4 separate regions of the Homo sapiens genome follow, and all the other regions are linked to region 2. Evidence: fine-mapped expression QTL. A gene starts in region 2. Each other region holds a variant in brackets. All regions are shown on one strand. Distances are from middle to middle.

Region 1 (6,024 bases), 110 kb after region 2:
GTAGGTCAGGAGGGAGGGTCCTCAGGGACCCTATGGAGATTTTACTCCTTCAATAACGTGGGGCGTGTGGAAAGCAGGAGGGTGGAGGAGGAGGAGGGCGGGGAAGGAGGACTGGGAGAATGCACATTTCTTTTTTTTTTTTTTTTTTTGAGACAGAGTTTTGCTCTGTCACCCAGGCTGGAGTGCAGTGGCCCGATCTTGGCTCACTGCAAGCTTCGCCTCCCTGATTCATGCCATTCTCCTGCCTCAGCCTCCCGAGTACCTGGGACTACAGGCACCTGCCACCATGCCCGGCTAATTTTTTGTTTTTTTTCTTTAAGTAGAGACAGGGTTTCACCATGTTAGCCAGGATGGTCTCGATCTCCTGACCTCATGATCCGCCCACCTTGGCCTCCCAAAGTGCTGGGATTACAGGCGTGAGCCACCACGCCCGGCCCAGAATGCACATTTCTGTTGTGTATTTTGCTGACTCCCTATTTGGCTAGAAGAGGAAATTCTGCTACCCAAGTTCACGGGGTCACCAGCAGACCAGCAGCAAGTGCCCCATGGCCATCCCAACCTCCTAGACAGGGTCTCGGGGCTCTCACTTTCCCCCAAACTTCTGGCTACAACTAGACTCAAACTTCGGCATCTTCCCTCTCCTTGCGTTCCTCTTTACTCTTTTCTAGGATCTTAGTAATCCCTCCATCCTGTCCTCCACCTGACCACAGAGCGGCACGGTGTGGGCAGCGCCACAGCCTGTGGGCAGGGCCAGCAGAGCCCACTGCACCACTCCCATCTGCTCTCTCGGGGTCTGAGGGCTGTAGCAGATTCTCTAGCTGAGCTCTCGGTTTTGGGGTGGTGGTACTGCATACTAACGTATCAGGAGACATGGTTTGACAGTGAATACTGGCTTTCCTTCCAGGGACAGATCAGCCATCACTTCATGGTCAACTTTGTTTGGTAGTGCTAGGAGCCAAGAATTTACCTGTGCGGCCAGATGGCACCTTGAACTCATTTGTTAAGGGGTAGGTATTCGATGTAATCAAATATTTATTGGTGATCTAGTATACATCACAACATGGCCCAGAACCTGCAGCGAACACTAAAAAACGTAAGCCACTTAAAACGTCTTATTTTAGCTTTCCTATGAAAATCTAACAACACATATTAAAGACCCTGATTTCCAAAAATTCACGGGATGTGTACATGCTGGAGTACTCGAAACCCTAATCTTCTCAGTTCTGTGATATCAGGAAGCCAGTTTTGAAATCAAGCATGAAAATGTGGTGTGGTCAGTAAATATTTCCTAAGCTTAACATCTCCTCTTGGACCAACAGTAAAACGCATGACTGTCCACATTTCATTCTCATTCAGTATAGGTGCATTGGCCCCTCTAAAAGTAAGGCAAATACCATTATTACATTGAATTGCAAACTCCCCGTCAGTGACATAGGGAAAAATGACGGTCAAGATAGAACTCAGGCTGGACGCAGTGGCTCGTGCCTGTAATCCCAGCACTTTGGGAGGCTGAGGCAGGTGGATCACCTGAGGTCAGGAGTTCAAAACTAGCCTGGCCAACATGATGAAACCCCATCTCTACTAAAAATACAAAAATTAGCTGGGTGTGGTGGCGGGCACCTATAATCCTAGCTGCTCTGGAGGCTGAGATAGGAGTCTTCCTTGAACTTGGGGGGAGGAGGTTGCAGTGAGCTGAGATGGTGCCACTTCACTCCAGCCTGGGCGACAGAACAAAACTCCGTCTCAAAAAAAGGAGAACTGAGCTTATGTTCTAATCTTGTTGCTTATCTGCATGGCCTTGGACAAGCTTGTCTGAGTTGATTTTCCTGAGAACAGGGTTAAAAGGAGATAACGTGTATCTGCAGTCATGGTGGGAGGCACCCCAAGGAGGAAAGATTAAGATGAGGGCCACGAGGCCTCAGCATGCAGCTCGCCCTTCATACCTGATGCAGAATTCGGCCCTAAGGGAAATGTGCCGAGTCCTGTGGTTCCCACCCTGCTTCACTGGGGAGGGTGTGGATGTTGTGGACTTGGCACTTTTCTTAGTGCTTCCCGTCTGCACTGACGCACAGGCCTCAGGAGAGAAGGCCGTGTGGATGGCAATGATTGCAGGGTTTGTGTTCCCTCTTCAGCTGTCTCACTCTGCCAGACCAACAAAAACTGAGACTGAAGTCGCCAGTCCTGAGGAAGCAGGCTTGCCCCCAGTGGAAACACTCATTTGTCTTCAGTGGCGTAACCCCAGCTCAGCTGAGGCAGTCAAGCTTGGAGTTAACTGTCTGGGATCAGGCCCTCTTTGGAATGAACGACCGCTTGCTTGGAGGAACCAGACTTGGTTCAAGTAAGTCTGAGACATTGAGCCCAAACGTTTATACTTTGTGATTATCCTAATGGGTACCGTGCAAAGAAAATGCTTCCACCAGGGCAGTGACTTAACTGGTTTTGAAATTGCCTAGCCTGCCTTAATTGGAAATGCCTAAGTCTAGTTTTTACTCTACAGCTGAGCCATAATACAGCCAAGTATTTTGACAATTTAAATCAGATTTAGATCTGCTAAAGAAACAAAAATTATAGGCCTCCAAACGGGCTAGGTACAGTATTTGCTTTTGTTTCTGGCGTCAATCATAAAAGGATTATTTTCTTAAATGAAAATATCTTCTTAAACAAATGGCAATTCAGAAAGTACTTCATCAAAAGTGGTCAGAACAGCAGTGCTGTCCAGAGCCGCTCGGCAGGGCACCGCCGGCATGGTAGGTGGACAGCCCTCTGCTGTGAGGTTCTGTGCCTGGCACTGCTTCTGGCTGCCAGCAGTGTCCCTGACATGATGACAACCAAAAACACCTGCACACATCTCCAAGGACCTCCAACTGAGAACCAGTGACTGAAGAGAAATAAGCTTCACTGCTCCATTGCTTTTCAAAGATATTTTGTCCAAAGCATACTGTCTTCCTCTAAGAATCCCTTCCCATGGGCAAGCCCAGCCCCCAGTCTGAGACGGCCCCACCCAGCTAGCCATGCTGGTGTGCAACTATCCACTCCCTTGGTGAAGACCCAGCCCACCAAACCAGAGTCCTCGCCTCACTTTCAAACTACAGAACTCCAGGCTGTTAGAGCCTCGCAGAGCAGAGGATGCCTGCGTGAATCCCAGTCTCAACACCAGCTTTGTTGGGGTGGGAGTGGTGGTGGCGGCGTCTGTCATCAGTGGTTGGCCTTTTAATGTGGACTTGAGGTGAAAAACTTCTGGCTGGTCATCATTTTTAAAGGGATGAGAGGGGATGAAGTGGTGCCCTCCCCGACCATGGCTAAATTGTCTTCCTCTCTTACAGAGGGAGACACAGCTGTTGGCGGGGATGCATGCTCAC[T/A]ATCGAAGCTCCAGTGGCAGAAAGTCCTTTCCAGCCCCAATCTATGGACAGACATGACTCTTGTCCTGCACTGACATGAAGGCCTCAAGGTTCCAGGTTGCAGCAGGCGTGAGGCACTGTGCGTCTGCAGAGGGGCTACGAACCAGGTGCAGGGTCCCAGCTGGAGACCCCTTTGACCTTGAGCAGTCTCCATCTGCGGCCCTGTCCCATGGCTTAACCGCCTATTGGTATCTGTGTATATTTACGTTAAACACAATTATGTTACCTAAGCCTCTGGTGGGTTATCTCCTCTTTGAGATGTAGAAAATGGCCAGATTTTAATAAACGTTGTTACCCATGTCCTCCAGTGCTTATCAAATGAGGTAAAAGGCCGGCTGGTGGGCATGGTAACTCCCCCCTGTAATCCCAGCAACTTTGGGAGGCTGCAGTGGATGGCTTGAGCTCAGAAGTGTGAGATCAGCCCAGGCAACATAGATACCCTGTCTACAAAAAAACCAAAAAATTATCCAGGTGTGGTGGTACACACCTGTAGTCCCAGTTACTCAGGAGGCTGAACCGGGAGGATTGAGCCCAGGAGGTTGAGGCTGCAGTAAGCCCCGATCATGCAACTGTGCTCCAGCCTGGGCCAAAGTAAGACCCTGTCTCAAGGCGGGGGGGGGAGTCACAGCTTCGCTGTGAGAAGCACTTTATTTTTTGAGACGGAGTCTCCCCGTCACCAGGCTGGAGTGCAGTGGCACGATCTTGGCTTGCTGCAAGCTCCGCCTCCCGGGTTCTAGCAATTCTCCTGCCCCAGCCTCCCAAGTAGCTGGGATTATAGGTATGCACCACCACACCAGGCTAATTTTCGTATTTTTAGTAAAGATGGGGTTTCACCATGTTGGCCAGGATGGTCTCGATCTCCTGACCTCGTGATCCGACCACCTCGGCCTCCCAAAGTGCTGGGATTACAGGTGTGAGCCACTGTGCCCGGCTATGAGGAGCATTTTAGAGGAGCCTGATGAGTGTTGGAGCAGTCTTTCTCTCCTGTGGAAACCATCTCGAGGAGGTTAGGTGACCCATGGAGCACCATGTCTTGGGTTGGTCAGCTCCAACTTACCAGTGTACCCCCAGGGACACCACGGCCCCTCACGAAACCTGGCCAGAGGACAGCATAGAGCCCAGACGAGTCGGCGGTAGCCCTCCCACCCCACACACAAGCACACACCCGTGCTGCTTCGTGCCTTTGCAAAGCTTTTATTTCATGTCTGCGGCATGGAATCCACCTGCACATGGCATCTTAGCTGTGAAGGAGAAAGCAGTGCACGAGAAGGAATGAGTGGGCGGAACCAACGGCCTCCACAAGCTGCCTTCCAGCAGCCTGCCAAGGCCATGGCAGAGAGAGACTGCAAACAAACAAACACAAGCAAACAGAGTCTCTTCACAGCTGGAGTCTGAAAGCTCATAGTGGCATGTGTGAATCTGACAAAATTAAAAGTGTGCATAGTCCATTACATGCATAAAACACTAATAATAATCCTGTTTACACGTGACTGCAGCAGGCAGGTCCAGCTCCACCACTGCCCTCCTGCCACATCACATCAAGTGCCATGGTTTAGAGGGTTTTTCATATGTAATTCTTTTATTCTGTAAAAGGTAACAAAATATACAGAACAAAACTTTCCCTTTTTAAAACTAATGTTACAAATCTGTATTATCACTTGTATATAAATAGTATATAGCTGATCATTAATAAGGTGTATAAGTACAATGTATTCTAAAACTGTTAAGCAAAAAAAAAAAAAACAAAAAAAAAAATCCAAGTGTCCTCCTCCACCACTCACGCTGGTGATCACTGTGCTCTCTGCCAGCTGCGTGGAGTGACGGGAGGAGGGAATCACTGTGTGTGCGAGAGTGCTTCAGACTCAATTTCCAAAATAATTTTCACCCCTCTAAGCATGTAAATATACAAAGATGGATCCTTCATAGAAATTAAAAAATCAATTTGAGCTCATTTCGAATACAGAACAAGTATGGCACAGATGGAAGTCCTGCCACGTTTCCTTTAATGATGCTGACTCTTGTATCACACAGGCCAGCATGAAGTTTCTTACTCAGACTTTACAGGCATTTTCCGTAATTCAATCAGTCCTGCTCCCAGCACAACACAGGAGGTGATTCGAGAATAATCGCGAGAATCAGGCCTGCTTGGCACTATTACAACTGGGGAAAACAAACCAGGGCGCCTCCCTGGTTCCCAGCCCAGAATGTTTCTGTTGGGTAACTGCTTTCTAAAGGAACTGGGATCTGAGGGAGTTCCTAGACTTGGAGCACTAAAGACACAAGCGTGGCGGGGCTGGCAGCGCCCGCTATGAGCACCCCTCTGCCCTTGGTCCTGGCCTGGCTGTTACAGGGCCTCGAACTCGTCGATGCGCTGCTTGGTGTTGCCCTGCCGGATCTGCCGCAGCGTCTTGTACTTGTCCCGGCCTTGCCTCATGTTCTCGTTGTGGATGATGTCATTGTGGGTCCTCTTATTCTCATCTCGGGCCTGGGACAGCTCGCTGCTCAGCGTCTGTAACATTAAGCAGCATTGGTCTAGTCCCTTCCTCCCCATATGGCCCGGCCCGTCCCCTAGGAAAACAGGAAGGGCAAGAGGGGTGCTGGGTGGGGCTGGCTCACATCACTGCCC
Region 2 (6,024 bases):
TTCCAAGCTCTTGGCCCCACCACGATCCTGAGCCAATCAGGAGCCTCTGAAATCTTTTTTCTTCTGCTACTTTGTTGTGGACCTGGAGTTCAGTAGCTAAGTGTCACAGAATTATGTGCAAAGCAAGAGTAAACCGGTTCTGAGCAAACACCTGCAATGGAAGAACATGACACTTGGGACAGCCTTTTCAATTTTCCCCACAACCTTTTAGGAACTTCCTAATTTAAATCAATTTCCTGAATGTCTGCTAGGATGGTGCATAATTAATGCATGGATCTTGTTATAACTGCGGATCACCAGCATGCACATAAATCAACAGAAAACATGCAAATGTGCATTTTAAAAATGCTTACATGATTTTAGCTTTTATACATTGGGTACCACTCTCCAATTTTAACTATTAAAGAACATTTGTTAAATGATCGCGATGTATGACATTTTGAGGCTGCCAGTAAACGGATGAGCTGGTCTGTTTATCTTCACAACTATCTGTTCACTTGTTCAATACACATATATGGAGCACTCCCTTTGTGTCAGGCTCTGAGCTGGGGGTTGAGGCTACAAAGTTGACTAAAACATGGCCTTTATGGAATTTTTTCTTTTAAACGGATATATCTGTAAATAGGAGGGTTTGAATTCTCTAGGCTTATGTGATGTTGTAGTGCTTGGAAAAATGCAGTGATGTGGTATTATATTCTGCCCAACTGATGTAGTCTGTAGGGCTAAGGAATTTAAAATCGTTAAGACATTTGGCAGTTCACCAGATGCCATTTCCAGCACCTTCCATCTGCCACGAATGGATGTCCATCAGAAGCATTGGAGCTCAGACACCTTTACTCGTAACTGCTCATGAATCTTTGGCATTCTGCCATATTTTAGAATAATGTTTAGTTTCTATGCAGTAAGTCAGTGGAGTGAATCTTAGGTTTGTTTTTCAATTTGGAGGTTAGTGATAGGTTGGCAGGTTTGCGTGCAATCACCTTTCTTTTCTGGAGTCAAATTTCTTGAATACAGACTGTGGGACTGGAGCTGCCAATACCTTTATTTAGCAAGTGTGGGCCTAATAATCATAGCAATCAATGAACTGTCACATCAATAAATAACATCAATAATATCCAGCAGTGGCTGGGCGCAGTGGCTCACACCTGTAATCCCAGTACTTTGGGAGGCTGAGGTGGGCAGATCACCAGAGGTCGGGAGTTCGAGACTAGCCTGACCAACATGGAGAAACCCTATCTCTACTAAAAATACAAAATTAGCCAGGCATGGTGGTGCATGCTTGTAATCCCAGCTACTTGGGAGGCTGAGGCAGGAGAATCGCTTGAACCCAGGAGGCAGAGATTGCGGTGAGCTGAGATAGCGCCATTGCACTCCAGCCCGGGTAACAAGAGCGAAACTCCGTCTCAAAAAATAAAATAATAGGCCAGGCGTGGTGGCTCACGCCTGTAATCCCAGCACTTTGGGAGGCCGAGGCGGGCGGATCACGAGGTCAGGAGATCGAGACCATCCTGGCTAACACGGTGAAACCCTGTATCTACTAAAAATACAAAAAATTAGCTGGGTGCGGTGGTGGGCGCCTGTAGTCCCAGCTACTCGGGAGGCTGAGGCAGGAGAATAGCGTGAACCCGGGAGGCGGAGCTTGCAGTGAGCCGAGATCGCGCCACTGCAGTCCCGACTGGGTGAAAGAGCGAGACTCGGTCTCAAAAAAAAAAAAAAAAAAATAATAATAATAATAATATCCAGCAGTGTTGTTCTGCTATAATCTGCAGCCCTTCATAGTCCAAATGCCATCCTGTGGATTTTCCATTTTTTCCTTTCTTCCCCTGTGCCAAGAAGTGTGTTACTATGAGATCATGCTGAGTCAAAATAATAGTAACAGAAGAAGACGATGAGGACGAGGGTGCTGTTGAAACACTCATGGCTGAGGAATTTAATGTTGTAAAGGAAAAGAAACTCTGGCTGACACATATCTAAAGTGAGAGTCCTGTGCTGAGAAAAGCTAAAGAGATTAGCTAAGAAGTGCCTATATTTAGATCTGCTATTGAGCTGGGAAGCGGAGGCACAGTTGTGCTGAAATACCTCTGTACCCCATGAAACAGTGGCTGCTCTGAGCTTCTTGGGTCCCTCTTCCTCTCAATCCTGGTGACTGCAGCCCCTTCCCTGGGACCTCATCCCCAAGATCCAATAACTAAAGGATAACTCGTGGTATAGCAGGGCCTCCGCTGGCATTTGTTCCAATGGGTAAATATTCATGCTATAGTAGTTATTAAATAGTTTGGTGCTCAGTTCTGTGTTTGTGAAAACACTACACACTACATCAGCAGAATAGGCTAGGTTAGCTGCAGAAACAAATGGCCCTACACTCTCAGTGGTTGATGACAGCAAACATTTATTTGCCACTCACACTCCATGACCATCAAGGATCTTCCATGGCTCTGCTTCATGTCTTCTCCATGCTGAGACGAGGTTGCTGGAGCAGCCTGTGTCTGGAGTCATCAAGGGAAAGAGAAGGGAAAGAGAATGAATGGTGGCCCCAGTACTGGCTCGGTAGGTGCCAAGCCTACGTGGCACGTGGCACCTTTGCACACACTTCATTGTCTTATTGCTCTCCAGAGCAAGTCCTTGGCCATGCCTGAGTTAGCAGGGCAGGGACACTTCACGGTGCTGAGTAATACTACCTAGTACACGCACAGCATTTTGAAGGTTCCCCTTGGTGATTTCATTACAATCTTCATCGCTCTTGGCCTGGCTGTCCCCCTTTCTTGTAAATTATTCTTGAGTTAATAGCTGTTCTTTGAGATGTGGTTAGTCATTTACACTGAAGTCAATGTGAAACCCTTCACAAATGTGAGAACATTTGAATATTTGAAGGCTGTAGTCTCTGTAGGGAGTTTCCTTAGGAAGGGTGAAACATTTCACCAGCATCAGCCTGGTCTTTCCTCCAGCTAAAAATGTAAAATGTTGGCATAGAAGAGCTCCTTGATGTGGTTTTGGGGTGGCTTTGCTCCCTGGGTCCCTAGTGATGTGGGAGTAGCCACCGAGGCATGTAAGGCTGGCCACACAGGGTGCACTGCGTCAGCCTGTGCCCGACAGGAAGGGAAGAGAAATACGTCAGTTACTCTAACAAGAAGAATTGACTTCCTTCTCTGCAGAGCCGGCTCTGGTCTCTTCTCTTGAAGCAGATGCGAAGGTAGGATGAGAAGGCATGGCTGGCCGTTGCAGCAGGTCGTTTTAGGAGTGGGGGAGTGGGGTGGGTAGAGATTATAGTTATTGTAACTTTTCTTAAATTTATGACATTGAAAAGGTAGGAAACAAAACATAATAAATTAGATAAAAGATATCTTGTAATTTTATTGAATAACATACATTTAACATTTGAGATAATAATGATTTAAGTGATATGGTGGAAGTGACTTCAGAGTTAATTAAAAACCAAAACAAAACAGAAAAACACTATCCAAAAGCTATATGGTGTGATTTTTTTTTTTAAAGGGTAGAGTGTCATTTGCTTTCTTCTTTGGTTTGCAAATTCTTATACTTACAGTTTATTACTATTTTGCTCTCTCTGAATCGACTTTATTGTTTTGATCATCCGTAATTTCTCGTTTGGAGGTGGAACATAAATATCATTTTGGAATTATAAAAAAGTTAGCTAGGGTCTAATTTAAATTTCTTTTAATTAAGCTTCCTTAATCTCTAAATTGCTTGGTAAGAAAGAGACTATGAGAGGAAAGTGCACATTAGATATTAAAGATTTATTAAATTAGAATTGGGCTGGGTGCGGTGGCTCACGCCTGTAATCCCAGTACTTTGGGAGGCCAAGGTGGGTAGATCCCTTGAGATCAGGAATTTGAGACCAGCCTGGCCAACATGATGAAACCCCATCTCTAAAAAAAAAAAAAAAATACAAAAATTAGCTGGGTGTGGTGGCAGGCACCTGTAATCCCAGCTGCCCAGGAGGCTGAGGCACGAGAATCACTTGAACCTGGGAGGCGGAGGTGGCAGTGAGCCAAGATCCTGCCACTGCAATCCAGCCTGGGCAACAGAGTAAGACTCCGTCTCAAAAAAAGAAAAAAAGAAATTAGAATTGGTGTAGAAAAGATTATTTAGCCAAGATAGTTGGAGATTCTAACTTAGCTGCTTTGCCTAAATGAAGCATAAGGTTTTGGAGTTAAACAGACCCAGTTTAGAGTGTGAGTTTAGGTAAGTTACTTAATCACTCCAAGACTCACTCTCCTCATCTGTAGAATGGGTACATTTACTTCATAATGTGGCAATAAGGATTAGTAGAGATAATGTATGCAAAGTACTTAAACTATCTGGTTCAGAGTAAGAGCTAAATAAATAGTAGCTGTTGGCACAACAGAAAGCATAACAACAATTGTGAGTAGTACCTAGAAGGATATAATAATATTAATTCTCGGCCGGGTGTGATGGCTCACGCCTGTCATCTCAGCACTTTGGGAGGCCTAGGCGGATGGATCATGAGGTCAAGAGATCGAGATCATCCTGGCCAACATGGTGAAACTCTACTAAAAAATACAAAAAAATTAGCTGGGTGTGGTGGCGGGCGCCTGTAGTCCCAGCTACTCAGGAGGCTGAGGCAGGGGAATTGCTTGAACCCGGGAGGTGGAGGTTGCAGTGAGCTGAGATCGCGCCACTGCACTCCAGCCTGGTGACAGAGCGAGACTCCATCTCAAATAAATAAATAAATAAATAAATAATAATATTAATTCTCATTTCTTTGCTCTTCCATACAAAGAGGTCAAGTTTAAAGTATGAATGCCATGGCTTCCTATTTCAGTCATGAATTCCTATTTCTGATTCTAAAGTAATATTTTTTGTTGTTTTTGGGTGGTAAAAGGCTCCCCGAATGAGAAAGAATACTCGGAATCAGCGGTGAATTGCAGTGATCTTTCAGAGAAAGCGCCTGTTCAACTTTGTCCTCTCTCAGGTAGGCTTCAAGTTTTATAGATTCAAGCCCACGTGTGAGTCTTCTAATGTTTTATTTATTTATTTATTTATTTTTATGTATTTTTATTTTTTTTTATTTATTTGAGATGGAGTCTCACTCTGTTGCCCAGGCTGGAGTGCAATGGCACGATCTCGGTTCACTGCAACCCCTGCCTCCCAGGTTCAAGTGATTCTCCTGCCTCAGCCTCCCCGGTAGCTAGGATTACAGGTGCCTGCCACCATGCCCAGATAATTTTTGTATTTTTAGTATAGATGAGGTTTCACCAGGTTGGCTAGGCTGGTCTCAAACTCCTGACCTCAGGTGATCCACCCACCTCGGCCTCCCAAAGTGTTGGGATTACAGGTGTGAGCCACCGAGCCCAGCCTGTTTATTTATTTACTTATTTTATTATTATTATTTTTTGAGACAGAGTCTCACTCTGTTGCCCAGGCTAGAGTGCAGTGGCTGCAATTTCAGCTCACTGCAAGCTCTGCCTCCCGGGTTAACACCATTCTCCTGCCTCAGCCTCCGAAGTAGCTGGGACTATAGGCACCTGCCGCCACACCTGGCTAATTTTTTTGTATTTTTAGTGGAGACAGGGTTTTAACATGTTGGCCAGGATGGTCTCCATCTCCTGACTTCATGATCCACCTGCCTCGTCCTCCCAAAGTGCTGGGATTACAAGCGTGAGCCACCACGCCCGGCCTTATTTATTTTTTTGAGACAGAGTCTCGCTCTGTCACCCAGGCTGGAGTGCAATGGCGCGATCTCAGCTCACTGCAACCTCCACCTCCCAGGTTCAAACAATTCTGTCTCAGCTTCCCGAGTAGCTGGGATTACAGGTGCCCACCACCATGCCCGGCTAATTTTTGTATTTTTAGTAAAGACAGGGTTTCACCATGTTGGCCAGGCTGGTCTCAAAACTCCTGACCTCGTGATCCACCCACCTCAGCTTCCCAAAGTGCTGGGATTACAGGCGTGAGCCACCGCACCCAGCCGAGTCTTCTAATGTGAAGTAGAGATATCTGAGGGACCTGAAACTTGTACAACTTGTGGAGACTTTGGGAAAA
Region 3 (6,024 bases), 67 kb before region 2:
TGGATCTGTAGGAAAAAAAATGGTTAAGATGGCAAATCTTATGTATATTTTGTCACAGTAAAAATTGGAAAAAAAACTATGAGGTTCGTATACCTATTAGTTAAAACTTTATGCTTTCCTGCTTATATTAGCATATATTATGTTTATAGCCCTTAATAAGTATTTTTGGAAGACGGGATTAATTGGATGAGCAGATAAGTGTGTCTTAGGTTTTGGAAGAAATCTTTATATTTTACAGAATATATAAGACAGAGTCTCTATAGTTAATGCCTTCTTGGGCCCATGCATGTAGAGAGTGCTCTCATTGAGAGCCTAGCAGGGTGTTTCCTGTGGAAACCCTCTGTGTTGTATGCCAGTCATGCTGGTTGACTTGTGTTGGGAAGTCGTGAAGCACAGCAGAGTGGATATTCTGTGTCTGTGTTTGTGTGTTTATATCTTCTACTTACACATTGTATAATCTCTAAAGAAAAACCAGGTGAATTAAGGTCATCTCCGTGTAATGTGTGAGTCTTTCTTGGAATTTGGAAAAAAATACTAAATTATCAATATTGCTATAATCTGCTTTTGTCCTTTTCTGTTACACTTTAGGACCTAAAGTGATCCAGACTTCTGCGGCTAATTTTTCACTAAATAATAGCAAAAAGGTAAGACTGGGTCTGAGTGGCAGCTGGGTGGTGGGGTGCATTATAAACCTCAGGTCACTGAGAAATGGTTCCGCTTAGAGTCTTTAAGGTAGCCTTCCCTTGCCTTGCGGCTTCTCAGGCAACACATTTCTTCTTCCATTGTCAGCTGCTGGCATCTGGGTTCTTGTTTGCTAAAGTCACCATTTCTGCTGTAATAAACACCTCAGTACTTAGGAAGATGGTGGTGTTACCTCTTAGGGAGCAGTTGTTCATTTCCAAAGAGTGGCTAACTCATCCTGATTCCTTGCCTCTGTAAGTCCTATCAGATTGTAATTTTTAATAATGATACCACTTAGGTGTCTCATCTTATATTTGCCCAGGTTAAGAATTGGCCTCTGTCAGATTTCTAATGGTACATTTCTTTCTAATGATTACTTTGTATTCCTTGTGTGAACTCAATTTAAATGAAAAATCCTTTAAAAAATACACCTTAACTTGGCCAGGTGAGGTGGCTCATGCCTGTAATCCCAGCACTTTGGGAAGCTGAGGTGAGCTGATCACGAGGTCAAGAGATTGAGACCATCCTGGCTAACATGGTGAAACCCCATCTCTACTGAAAATACAAAAAAATTAGCTGGGCGTGGTGGGGGGGCGCCTGTAGTCCCAGCTACTCGGGAGGCTGAAGCAGGAGAATGGTGTGAACCCGGGCGGGGGAGCTTGCCGTCAGCCAAGATCGTGCCAATGCATCCAGCCTGGGTGACAGAGTGAGACTCTGTCTCAAAAAAAAAAAAAAAAAAAAAGCCTTAACTTTTTTACCACCTTTAGAGAAAAACAGAGCTTCTTTCAATTGGAGAATTTTGGTTTCCTTGAATAAATACTAACCTGTGAGAGCCCAGACAACTAAACCTTTTTTTGTGTGTGAAACATAACTTTACCTATAAACTGAACACAGTTGCCCTGTATCTTCGAGGCACCATGATATATATAGTTTAAATCTGATTGTATGACCCCAAATCCCCCTTCTCTCTGTTCTCACACTTCCCTGCTAGTTTTCTACCCTTATAATTTTGCAAAAAGTCAAAAGAAGAAAAAGTACTAAAACTTACACCATTTGATTTTTCTCTTTGCTACTGCTAGTTTGAAAGGGCCCTCTGCATAGCCTGTTTTCACATTTCCTTTGCATTGCTTTATTTTCTTTCACTGTTGGCGTGATGATCTGATTTGAGGAGGTGCCGCCGTGGGCTTTCCTGATAGTAGTTCATCTTTTACAGTTTCTGTCTCTCAGGGTGTGAGTCTCTCTTTGACACTGAACACAGCAGCCATTCCACTGAACTGACTTGCTTCCAAGAGACCATCCTCACTTCACTAAGACAGTAGCTCATTCCTGGAGAGATTTCCTGCCTTGATGGTTTTTAGGCAAATCTTTAGTCCTAGGGAGTTTTATTGAGACCCTGACAGAAGTATTAAGACACAAAAACACATTCACTTGAGACTAGCCTGGGCAGCATAGGGAGACTGTGTCTCTACAACAAATTTAAAAATAAGCTGGGTGTGGTGGGGCATACCTGTAGTCCCAGCTACTTGGGAGGCTGAGGTGGGAGGATCTCTTGATCCTGAGAGGTTGATGCTGCGGTAAGCCATGATTGCACCACTACACTCCAGCCCTGGGTGACAGAGCACGACCCTGTCTTAAAAAAGAAAAAAAAAGAAAAAACCCATTCACCTCCAAAGACGATGCATTCAGATAATGCTTTTCTTTGGAACCATGGGTGGGCTGCTTCAGTAACTCTCTCTGTGGCCTGCTGCTATTAAACACCAGTATTACGTCTTTCAAAAGATACTGCAGAAGAATCACTGGCAACATCATCACCTCTAATTTTTCTCCCCAGGGGTGTTAAGATTTTCTTTCAGAAGGCTAAAAATAGCAGACGTCAAAGAGCAATTTGCCTGGCATATGGATACTTCAGAAATAATTCTTGGCCGGGCGCAGTGGCTCATGCTTGTAATCCCAGCACTTTGGGAGGCCGAGGTGGGCTGATCATGAGATCAGGACTTCAAGACCAGTCTGGCCAACACGGTGAAACTCCATCTCTACTAGAAATAGAAAAATTAGCTGGGTGTGGTGGCAGGTGCCTGTAATCCCAGCTATTTGGGAGGCTGAGGCAGGAGAATCACTTGAACCTGGGAGGCAGAGGTTGCAGTGAGCCGAGATCACGCCCCTGCTCTCCAGCCTGGGTGACAGAGCTAGACTCCCGTCTCAAAAAATAATAATTCTTGAGATATATTATCTTGTAAATATGAAAGCATTCCTTTGGTATTCTTTATTGTCTTAGTATGTATCTCATCATTCTGCTCATTTTATTCTTTTTCCAAGATGGTTTTTTTCTTGATATTTAAGTAAGTGTATTGTCCCCAAGGGTCCCAGTGTGAAAAATGTCTGCTTAGAGATTTCTGTGAGAGACAGACGTGAATTGCTGCTGGAAGTTAGTCGTTTCTTCTTCTGAAAGGCAAAATGTCACTTATGTTCTTGAAAGGAAAACCTCATGGCCGGGCGCAGTGGCTAATGCCTGTAACCTAGCGCTTTAGGAGGCCGAGGTGGGCGGATCACCAGGTCAGGAGAT[C/T]GAGACCATCCTGGCTAACACGGTGAAACTCCGTCTGTACTAGAAATACAAAAAATTAGCTGGACGTGGTGGCGGGCGCCTGTAGTCCCAGCTACTCGGGAGGCTGAGGCAGGAGAATGGCGTGAACCCAGGAGGCAGAGCTTGTAGTGAGCCGAGATCGCGCCACTGCACTCTAGCCTAGGCGACAGAGTGAGACTCCATCAAAATAAAAAAAAGAAGGAAAACCTCACATATTTCTGTTTCAAAGCTAACACTGAAGCCTTTATTGCTAAAAGTAAACTTTGTGTGTTAAAACGATGAGGTATTTGGTAGACTCAATGAAAAGGTCACATGGATTACTTTGTTTTTTTTTCTTCAGCTAAAGCCAATTCAAATACTTTCAAATCCACTGTCTACATACAATCAGCAACTATGGCTGACATGTGTTGTTGAGTTGGATCAATCAAAAGGTATGGAGCTTGACATTTTGGAATGATTTTTCATTATACGAAGAAACATCGTATTTTAGATGTTGACTTCAGAATATTCAGACAAGCAAGTGCTCAAAGATAGATGTATAAGGATGTCCATTATTATTTATCATAGCAACAAATTGGAAACCCCTTAAATGTCTTCCAGTGGGAGAGAAAGTTGCGATAGATAGACGTCCTCCGTGGAGTCCTGGTTAGCTCCGCTCAGTGGCTGCATGGTGTCGGCGCTACAGCTGCCAGCCTTTTTCAGTGAGGATCTGGGAGAGAATTAAGACCTGATGCCCTAAAATAATGGTTCTGGCCCCCAGGGACACTTGCCAATGTCTTGAGACAATTTCGTCACACACGGAGAGGAGGAGGGAGTGCTCCAGGCATCTAGTGGGTAGAGGGCAGAGGTGCCGACACCTCCCCCACTTTCACAACAAGGAATTATCTGGCCCAAAATGTCAGTGATGCAGAGGCTGAGAAACCCTCCCCTAATGCATCCATTGTTTATGATGAATTAGCTTCTGTCAGTCTACAGTGGCACTAGTTTTGTATCATCCTAGGGAGAATTGAGAAGATAACCAAATCCTTTTCTGTTCTGTGCCTCACATGAGACACTCTGGTTGAGAAAGAATTTGAAAAGATAACCCCATGACCACAGTAAATGAAGTGAAACAAATATATATTACGAAAAAATTATCCCCTCTTTGTAACATTTTAGAAAGCAAAAAATTCATATTACTACGTATTTGTCTAGAAAATGGTCTGGAAGGATAGACATGAAATATGAATTACGATTATCTCTAGGTGAAATTCTCAGTATTTAATGCTATCTTTATATTTTATGATTTTTTTAAAATGAGAATATAATGAGAAAAACCTATAATCAGAAGAAATAAGAAATCTATTTCTATTTTTGGTATAGAATTTGGTAAGTTAAAAATGTATGTGAGAAATTAAAAATATAAGTTCATTAGCCATGAAATATTTACCCTTTTTTTGTGTGTGAAGTGAAACTGATGGGTCTGAAGTGCAGGTTTTGACATAGACCCCCTGGGTGCTGGGTTGGAATCTAATGGAAAGGCTTTTACTTTGCTGGGCAATTAAGAGATTTTCAAATGTGCTGAGGCCAATGTGGCCTAAGGACCTTAAGCGTTTTCCTGGCTCCAAGGTCATTACAGAGCCAGGAAGGCACCTTTGTAGGTGTGATGTGCCTGGCATGGTCTCTAACACTGAATTTTTTTCTTTTGTAGAAACTTCTATTAAGACAAGCTTTCCCATGACTGTTAAAGTCGATGGTGTAGCTCAAGATGGAACCACGATGTACATTCATAACAAAGTTCACAACCGGACAAGGACCCTCACATGTGCAGGGGTGAGTGTGTGGGGTGAGCCCCACAGTCAGTCCTCAGGCTGTGTACACGTTTAATTACAGAGCCACTTTCCAGTCTAAAAGATAGCATGGTAAGAGGCTTCGAGAAATTGTTCTTAAGTGAAAAAAATGGAGTCATACCAAAGATGGCATGAAAAAACTTACTTATTTTTACAGTTGGATACCCTTAAAAATTCTTATAAACGTACACATGCATTCACACATCCGTAAACACACGTGTACGCACATATGCATGCACACACATATACTGCTAGCCACCCTGAGCATACACGGTACTTGTTTTTACTGTGTGTGTGACCTTCTGCCCAGTGTGTCCCTAATGAATGTTATGGGCTGCCTCCTCATACGAACGTCTGCCACAGGCTGTGGTCACTGGGTTTTTTTGTTTTATTTTGTTTAGAGACAGGTTTTTGCTCTGTCAACCAGGCTGGAGTGCAGTGGCACAATCACAGCTCACTGCAGCCTCAAACTCCTGGGCTCAAGCAATTCTCCTGCCTTAACTTCCCAAGTAACTGGGACTGCAAGCGTATGCTACCAGGGCTGACTAATTTTCCATGGTCACTCTTGACTGAGGCTTTGGGTTGTTCCCAGCCGAGTGATGCATGCCCTAATCCGTCTGTGTGAAGCCAAGTACCTGGGCCTCTTGGGCGTCAGGGGCCTACCTTTTTGAGCATCTACTTCAGAGCACAGTGTGGCTAAGGGATAGGAAACCTGGGTCCACAGTGGGGAATGAGCCCTCACGCTTGATTTCATTGGCACTGTATTCTGTTCAGAGTCCAAAGAATCAGAACCAGATCCCTGCTAGAGCGAGGAGTCCACCTCAGGCACAACAGGTTACTGGCAGCGTGGAGAACTTGGAGAGCATCAAAACAGGGCAGTGCATTTTCTTATAGGATTAGGAAAGTAATGTCAGAAGCCAGATGGCAAGTAGT
Region 4 (6,024 bases), 25 kb after region 2:
TGACAGCGAGACTCAGTCTAAAAAAAAAAAAAAAGATAATTATTTAAATTATTTAGCCAATCATTTTGAAACCTCTATATTTTTATAATTATTATCTATATGTTATACAGCATCTCTTTCCATAATTATTTTTGTTACCTTCAGTGTTTTCTGATTATATTTACAACAATATTTTAAACCAACTTTGCATTTTATAACTGATTCAAGTGCTCATTGCTAGTCTTTGGAGACCATGATTTCCCAGTTTGCAAGTTCTTTATTTTGATTCATTTTTCAATCACTTGAATTGCCTCCTTAAGAAGTTTTTCCTCACACCTGTAATCCCAGCACTTTGGGAGGCCGAGGTGGGCAGATTGCCTAAGCTCAGGAGTTCATGACCAGCCTGGGCAACACAGTGAAACCCTGTCTCTACTAAAATACAAAAAATTAGGTGGGCATGGTCGTGTGTACCTGTAATCCCAGCTACTTGGGAGGTTGAGGCAGGAGAATTGCTTGAACCCGGGAGGCGGAGGTTGCAGTGAGCCGAGATTGCACTACTGCACTCCAGCCTGGGCGACAGAGCAAGACTGTCTCAAAAAAAAAGTTTTTCCCCAGGAGAGGACTGTGAGTGGTGTATTTTCCACGTCATTGCGTATTTGAGAGTTGCTTTCCGTGGTCTTCCTTCATGAGGAATGATTTCACTGGGTTTTAAGTCCTGGGTTGCCACTGTTTACTCAGTAAATGCAGCCATGTTGCCTTTTGGAATTTAACATTATGGAGACAGCTGATGCTAGTTTTATTTTTATTTCATTGTTTATCTCCTGATTTTTATGTAGAAGAAACATACTGGTTTTTTTGTTTCTTTTTTTTTTTTTTGGCAGAGACTGCAGCCTTATTCTCTTTTAAAACTTTTTATTTAGTTGGTTTTTAATTTTTTTAATTTAATTTTTTTTTTGAGACTGAGTCTCACTCTGTCGCCCAGGCTGGAGTGCAGTGGCACGATATCAGCTCACTGCAACCTCCGCCTCCTGGGTTCAAGTGAGTCTCCTGCCTCAGTTTCCCTAGTAGCTGAGATTACAGGTGTGTGTTACCACACCCAGCTAATTTTTTGTATTTTTTTGTAGAGATAGGGGTTTCACCTTGTTGGTCAGGCTGGTCTCAAACTCCTGGCCTCAAGTGATCTGCCCGTCTCGGCCTCTCAAACTGCTGGAATTTCAGGCGTGAGCCACCTCACCTCACCTAGTTAGTTTTTTTAGAGACAGGGTGTCACTCCGTCACCCAGGCTAGAGTACAGGGTGTGATCATAGCTCACTGCAGCCTCCAACGCCTGGGTTCAAGAGACCTTCCTGCCTCAGCCTCCCAAATAGCTGGGACTCCAAGTACGCACCACCACATCTGGCTGATATAGATATGTTTTAAGACAAGGTCTTACTATGTTATCCAGGCTGGTCTTGAACTCCTAGCTTCAAGTGACCCTCCTGCCTTGGCCTCTCGAAGTGCTAGGATTGCAGGTGTGAGCCACCATGCCCAGTTATTTTTTTTTTCTGTATCCTTTTTATTAAAAACAGTTTCTAATATGTGTCTGGGAATGATGTTTTTGTGGATTAAGGGCCGTTCTTTTGAGCTGCTCCCTCTTGGGTCTCCTGGGTTTTTATTTCGGTTTAACTCAGTCATGCTTTCCTCAGTCAAGTCTGATTGTTCTCAAGATGCTTTCATGCCACTTACACAGCTTCTTTGGGAATAGCATTTTTTTTTTTTTTTTTGAGACGGAGTCTTGCTCTGTTGCCCAGGCTAGAGTGCAGTGGGGCGATCTCGGCTCACTGCCAGCTCCACCTCCCAGGTTCACGCCATTCTCCTGTCTCAGGCTCCCGAGTAGCTGGGACTACAGGCGCTGGCCACCATGCCCCCCTAATTTTTTGTATTTTTAGTAGAGACGGGGTTTCACCATGTTAGCCAGGATGGTCCCAATCTTCTGACCTCGTGATCCACTGCCTCAGCCTCCCAAAGTGCTGGGATTAAAGGTGTGAGCCACCACGCCCCGCCAGGAACAGCTTTGAAGGCATAAGTTGGCTTCCTTTTCTCTTTGTATTAATAATCTTCTTCCTCGGGCCGGGCGTGGTGGCTCACACCTGTTATCCCAGCACTTTGGGAGGCCGAGCTGGGCGGATCACTTGAGGTCAGGAATTCAAGTCCAGCTTGGCCAACATGGTGAAACCCTGTCTCTACTAAAAATACAAAAATTAGTTGGATGTGGTGGCACATGCCTGTAATCCCAGCTACTCCGGAGGCTGAGGCAGGAGAATCGCTGGAACCTGAGAGTTGGAGGTTGCAATGAGCCGAGATCGCACCACCGCAGTCCACCCTGGGCAACATAGTGAGACTGTGTCTCAAAATAATAATAAT[A/AATAATAATAAT]ATAATAATAATAATAATAATAATGATGATGATGATGATAATCTTCTCCCTCAACATTTAATGTCTTTTTCTTTCTCTTTCACATTCTGGCAAGTGTCTCTGCCAAGTCAGCCTCACAGATTCAACTTTCTAGCCTGCCATTTCTGCTCTTTTCTGCTGATGAAACAGTTCATTCTGCTTTGGCTCTGTTAGTTTATGAAATATTCCCTTATTGTAGTCCCACCGTCTCTTCATCCTGGCTCTTCCTTCTATCTTGCTGTGTCTTTTTCTCAGAGGTGGGTCTTAAATGTTTTTGGAGGCTGACTGCTTTCTGAAAGTTCCCTCTGGTTCCACGGTGATGCACGGTCACAGAGGCTGCTGGCCTGGTCTTCTGGACTCCATGTACCCTGACTATGGCATTTTATCGGAAGCTCTTGGTTGTCTCTTTAGAAAGCCAGGTTGAGCGGTTGCCCACAGAGAGCGTGTGCTCCTGCTTTCGGCCTTCTCATCGCCCCTCTGTCGTGGTGGATCCCCCTTCTTAGGTCTACAGGGAGAGGACAGGTCGGGGCACAGCATCTAACCGTTTTTATTGCCAAGGCCTTAAACAAGTACGGCTCTGTCCAGCTGCAGTAGAATTTTTCCTAATTTCATTGACTGGTTATCTGATATAACAGACCAGGAGTCACAAACTTGACATCAACAGACGACAGACAGGGCACAGACCTTGTTTGTTCTGACCTGCGCAGTGTTTAATATTGATCATTTTAGTGCTTCAAAATGGGTGTGTATCCTCTGGTTAAGCAAGTTCCCACCCCTCCCTGTTGTCTCCCCTCCCAGCCCCCTTCCCTCATTTACAGTTTCTGCTTGGGCCCTCAGTGTGTGGCCCTGCCCGACACAGTTAGAGGGTGTGACACCTACTCTATGTACATATGTAGAAAGCTGAAACTGGATCCCTTCCTTACACCTTATACAAAAATTAATTCAACATGGATTAAAGACTTAAATGTTAGACTTACTCAATTTCAGTGCACACTGCTACAAGGCTACACCTATTTTGGATCCCACCTTATCTCTTTAATTCTAAGGATGCCCCCCTGCGGAGGGGAGGATATTCATTCATTCACTGGGGCTGTAATGTGCCTGGCCAGAGCTTGTAGCTGTGAATATAGCACTGGATGTGACAGAGAGGGGGGCACCTGCCTTCTCTCTGAGGTTAAGCAAGGGAGAGTTATTCGTGTTTTGTAAGAAGTGTTGGTAACAGCTTGATAAAAACCCTTTCTTTATCTTCATCTTGATTCTCTGACTCCTTTGATAGTTACCTAGGATTCAATCACAATGATCAGTCTTTTTTTTCCTGTAAGGATGTGGAAATCAGATCAATTGAGCTAGTGGAAAAAAACGAGTATTTTGCTTTGTAACTATGAACCATTTTAGATGCGAGACTAGTTGAAGTAGGGCCGGTCACAGTGGCTCACGCTTATAATCCCAGCACTTTGGGAGGCCGAGGTGGGTGGATCACCTGAGGTTGGGAGTTCGAGACCAGCCTGGCTGACATGATGCAATCCCATCTCTACTAAAAACACAAAAATGGCCGGGCGCAGTGGCTCACGCCTGTAATCCTAGCACTTTGGGAGGCCAAGATGGGCGGATCATGAGGTCAGGAGATCGAGACCATCCTGGCTAACATGGTGAAACCCTGTCTCTACTAAAAATACAAAAATAAATTAGCCGGGCGCGGTGGTGGGCACCTGTAGTCCCAGCTGCTCAGGAGGCTGAGGCAGGAGAATGGCGTGAACCCGGGAGGCGGAGCTTGCAATGAGCCAAGATGGCACCACTGCACCCCAGCCTGGGCGACAGAGCGAGACTCCATCTCATGGATAGGAAGAATCAATATTGTGAAAATGGCCATACTGCCCAAGGTAATTTATATCCCCATCAAGCTACCAATGACTTTCTTCACAGAATTGGAAAAAACTACTTTCAAGTTCATATGGAACCAAAAAAGAGCCTGCATTGCCAAGTCAATCCTAAGCCAAAAGAACAAAGCTGGAGGCATCACACTACCTGACTTCAAACTATACTACAAGGCTACAGTAACCAAAACAACATGGTACTGTTACCAAAACAGAGATATAGACCAATGGAACAGAACAGAGCCCTCAGAAATAATGTTGCATATCTACAACTATCTGATCTTTGACAAACCTGACAAAAACAAGCAATGGGGAAAGGATTCCCTATTTAATAAATGGTGCTGGGAAAACTGGCTAGCCATATGTAGAAAGCTGAAACTGGATCCCTTCCTTACACCTTATACAAAAATTAATTCAACATGGATTAAAGACTTAAATGTTAGACCTAAAACCATAAAAACCCTAGAAGAAAACCTAGGCAATACCATTCAGGACATAGGCATGGGCAAGGACTTCATGTCTAAAACACCAAAAGCAATGGCAACAAAAGCCAAAATTGACAAATGGGATCTAATTAAACTAAAGAGCTTCTGCACAGCAAAAGAAACCACCATCAGAGTGAACAGGCAACCTACAGAATGAGAGAAAATTTTTGCAACCTACTCATCTGACAAAGGGCTAATATCCAGAATCTACAATGAACTCAAACAAATTTACAAGAAAAAAACAAACAACCCTATCAACAAGTGGGCGAAGGATATGAACAGACACTTCTCAAAAGAAGACATTTATGCGGCCAAAAAACACATGAAAAAATGCTCATCATCACTGGCCATCAGAGAAATGCAAATCAAAACCACAATGAGATACCATCTCACACCAGTTAGAATGGTGATCATTAAAAAGTCAGGAAACAACAGGTGCTGGAGAGGATGTGGAGAAATAGGAACACTTTTACACTGTTGGTGGGACTGTAAACTAGTTCAACCATTGTGGAAGACAGTGTGGCGATTCCTCAAGGATCTAGAACTAGAAATACCATTTGACCCAGCAATCCCATTACTGGATATATACCCAAAGGACTATAAATCATGCTGCTATAAAGACACATGCACACATATGTTTATCATGGCCCTACTCACAATAGCAAAGACTTGGAACCAACCCAAATGTCCAACAATGATAGACTGGATTAAGAAAATGTGGCACATATACACCATGGAATACTATGCAGCCATAAAAAAGGATGAGTTCATGTCCTTTGTAGGGACATGGATGAAGCTGGAAACCATCATTCTCAGCAAACTATCTCAAGGACAAAAAACCAAACACCGCATGTTTCTCACTCATAGGTGGGAATTGAACAATGAGAACACATGGACACAGGAAGGGGAACATCACACACCGGGGAATGTTGTGGGGAGCGGGGAGGGATAGCATTAGGAGATATACCTAATGCTAAATGACAAGTTAATGGGTGCAGCACAACATCATGGCACATGTATACATATGTAACACACCTGCACGTTGTGCACATGTACCCTAAAACTTATAATAAAAAAAAAATGAGCTGGTTGTGGTGGTGGGTGCCTGTAACCCCAGCTACTTGGGAGGCTGAGGCGGAAGAATCACTTGAACCCGGGAGGCAGAGGTTGCAGTGAGCCGAGATCATGTCATTGCACTCCAGCCTGGGTGACAAGAATGAAACTCTGTCTCAAAAAAAAAAAAAAAAAAAAAAAAAGACTATTTG

Direction of the effects. Alleles are on the strand shown, and positions count from the first base shown. SD is a standard deviation of normalised expression in the study named. Not every link is listed here.
For the expression in Th2 cells of the gene that starts at base 3,166 in region 2, allele A in region 4 goes with a lower level than allele AATAATAATAAT (large effect, 1.0 SD a copy in Schmiedel 2018).

The links. PIP is the estimated chance that this variant, and not a neighbour inherited with it, causes the effect.
Region 1: its variant is the best candidate, but not a certain one, in a credible set for the expression of SYTL3 in whole blood (TOPMed, PIP 0.66).
Region 3: its variant is the best candidate, but not a certain one, in a credible set for the expression of SYTL3 in whole blood (TOPMed, PIP 0.74).
Region 4: its variant is the best candidate, but not a certain one, in a credible set for the expression of SYTL3 in Th2 cells (Schmiedel 2018, PIP 0.70).

Annotation. Positions count from the first base shown.
Region 1 is chr6:158,761,172-158,767,195 of GRCh38, forward strand. It overlaps SYTL3 (synaptotagmin like 3), which reads left to right. Exons shown (of 18, transcript NM_001242394.2): 16 at 905-1,007; 17 at 2,133-2,338; 18 at 3,324-3,700. The coding sequence ends at 3,433. EZR (ezrin) reads right to left here. Exons shown (of 14, transcript NM_001111077.2): 14 at 4,577-5,907. The coding sequence ends at 5,743. MIR3918 (microRNA 3918) reads right to left here and starts at 3,582; the gene lies at 3,490-3,582. RefSeq lists a silencer at 1,686-1,980. The variant T/A (reference allele first, on the strand shown) is at 3,360.
Region 2 is chr6:158,646,889-158,652,912 of GRCh38, forward strand. SYTL3 (synaptotagmin like 3) reads left to right here and starts at 3,166. Exons shown (of 18, transcript NM_001242394.2): 1 at 3,166-3,190; 2 at 4,865-4,954.
Region 3 is chr6:158,580,352-158,586,375 of GRCh38, forward strand. It overlaps TMEM181 (transmembrane protein 181), which reads left to right. Exons shown (of 17, transcript NM_001376852.1): 3 at 589-644; 4 at 3,603-3,693; 5 at 4,953-5,074. Among named protein-coding and RNA genes, the nearest start is that of TMEM181, 23 kb to the left of the region's middle. The variant C/T (reference allele first, on the strand shown) is at 3,245.
Region 4 is chr6:158,671,716-158,677,739 of GRCh38, forward strand. All of the region lies in intron 5 of SYTL3 (synaptotagmin like 3), which reads left to right. Among named protein-coding and RNA genes, the nearest start is that of SYTL3, 25 kb to the left of the region's middle. The variant A/AATAATAATAAT (reference allele first, on the strand shown) is at 2,383.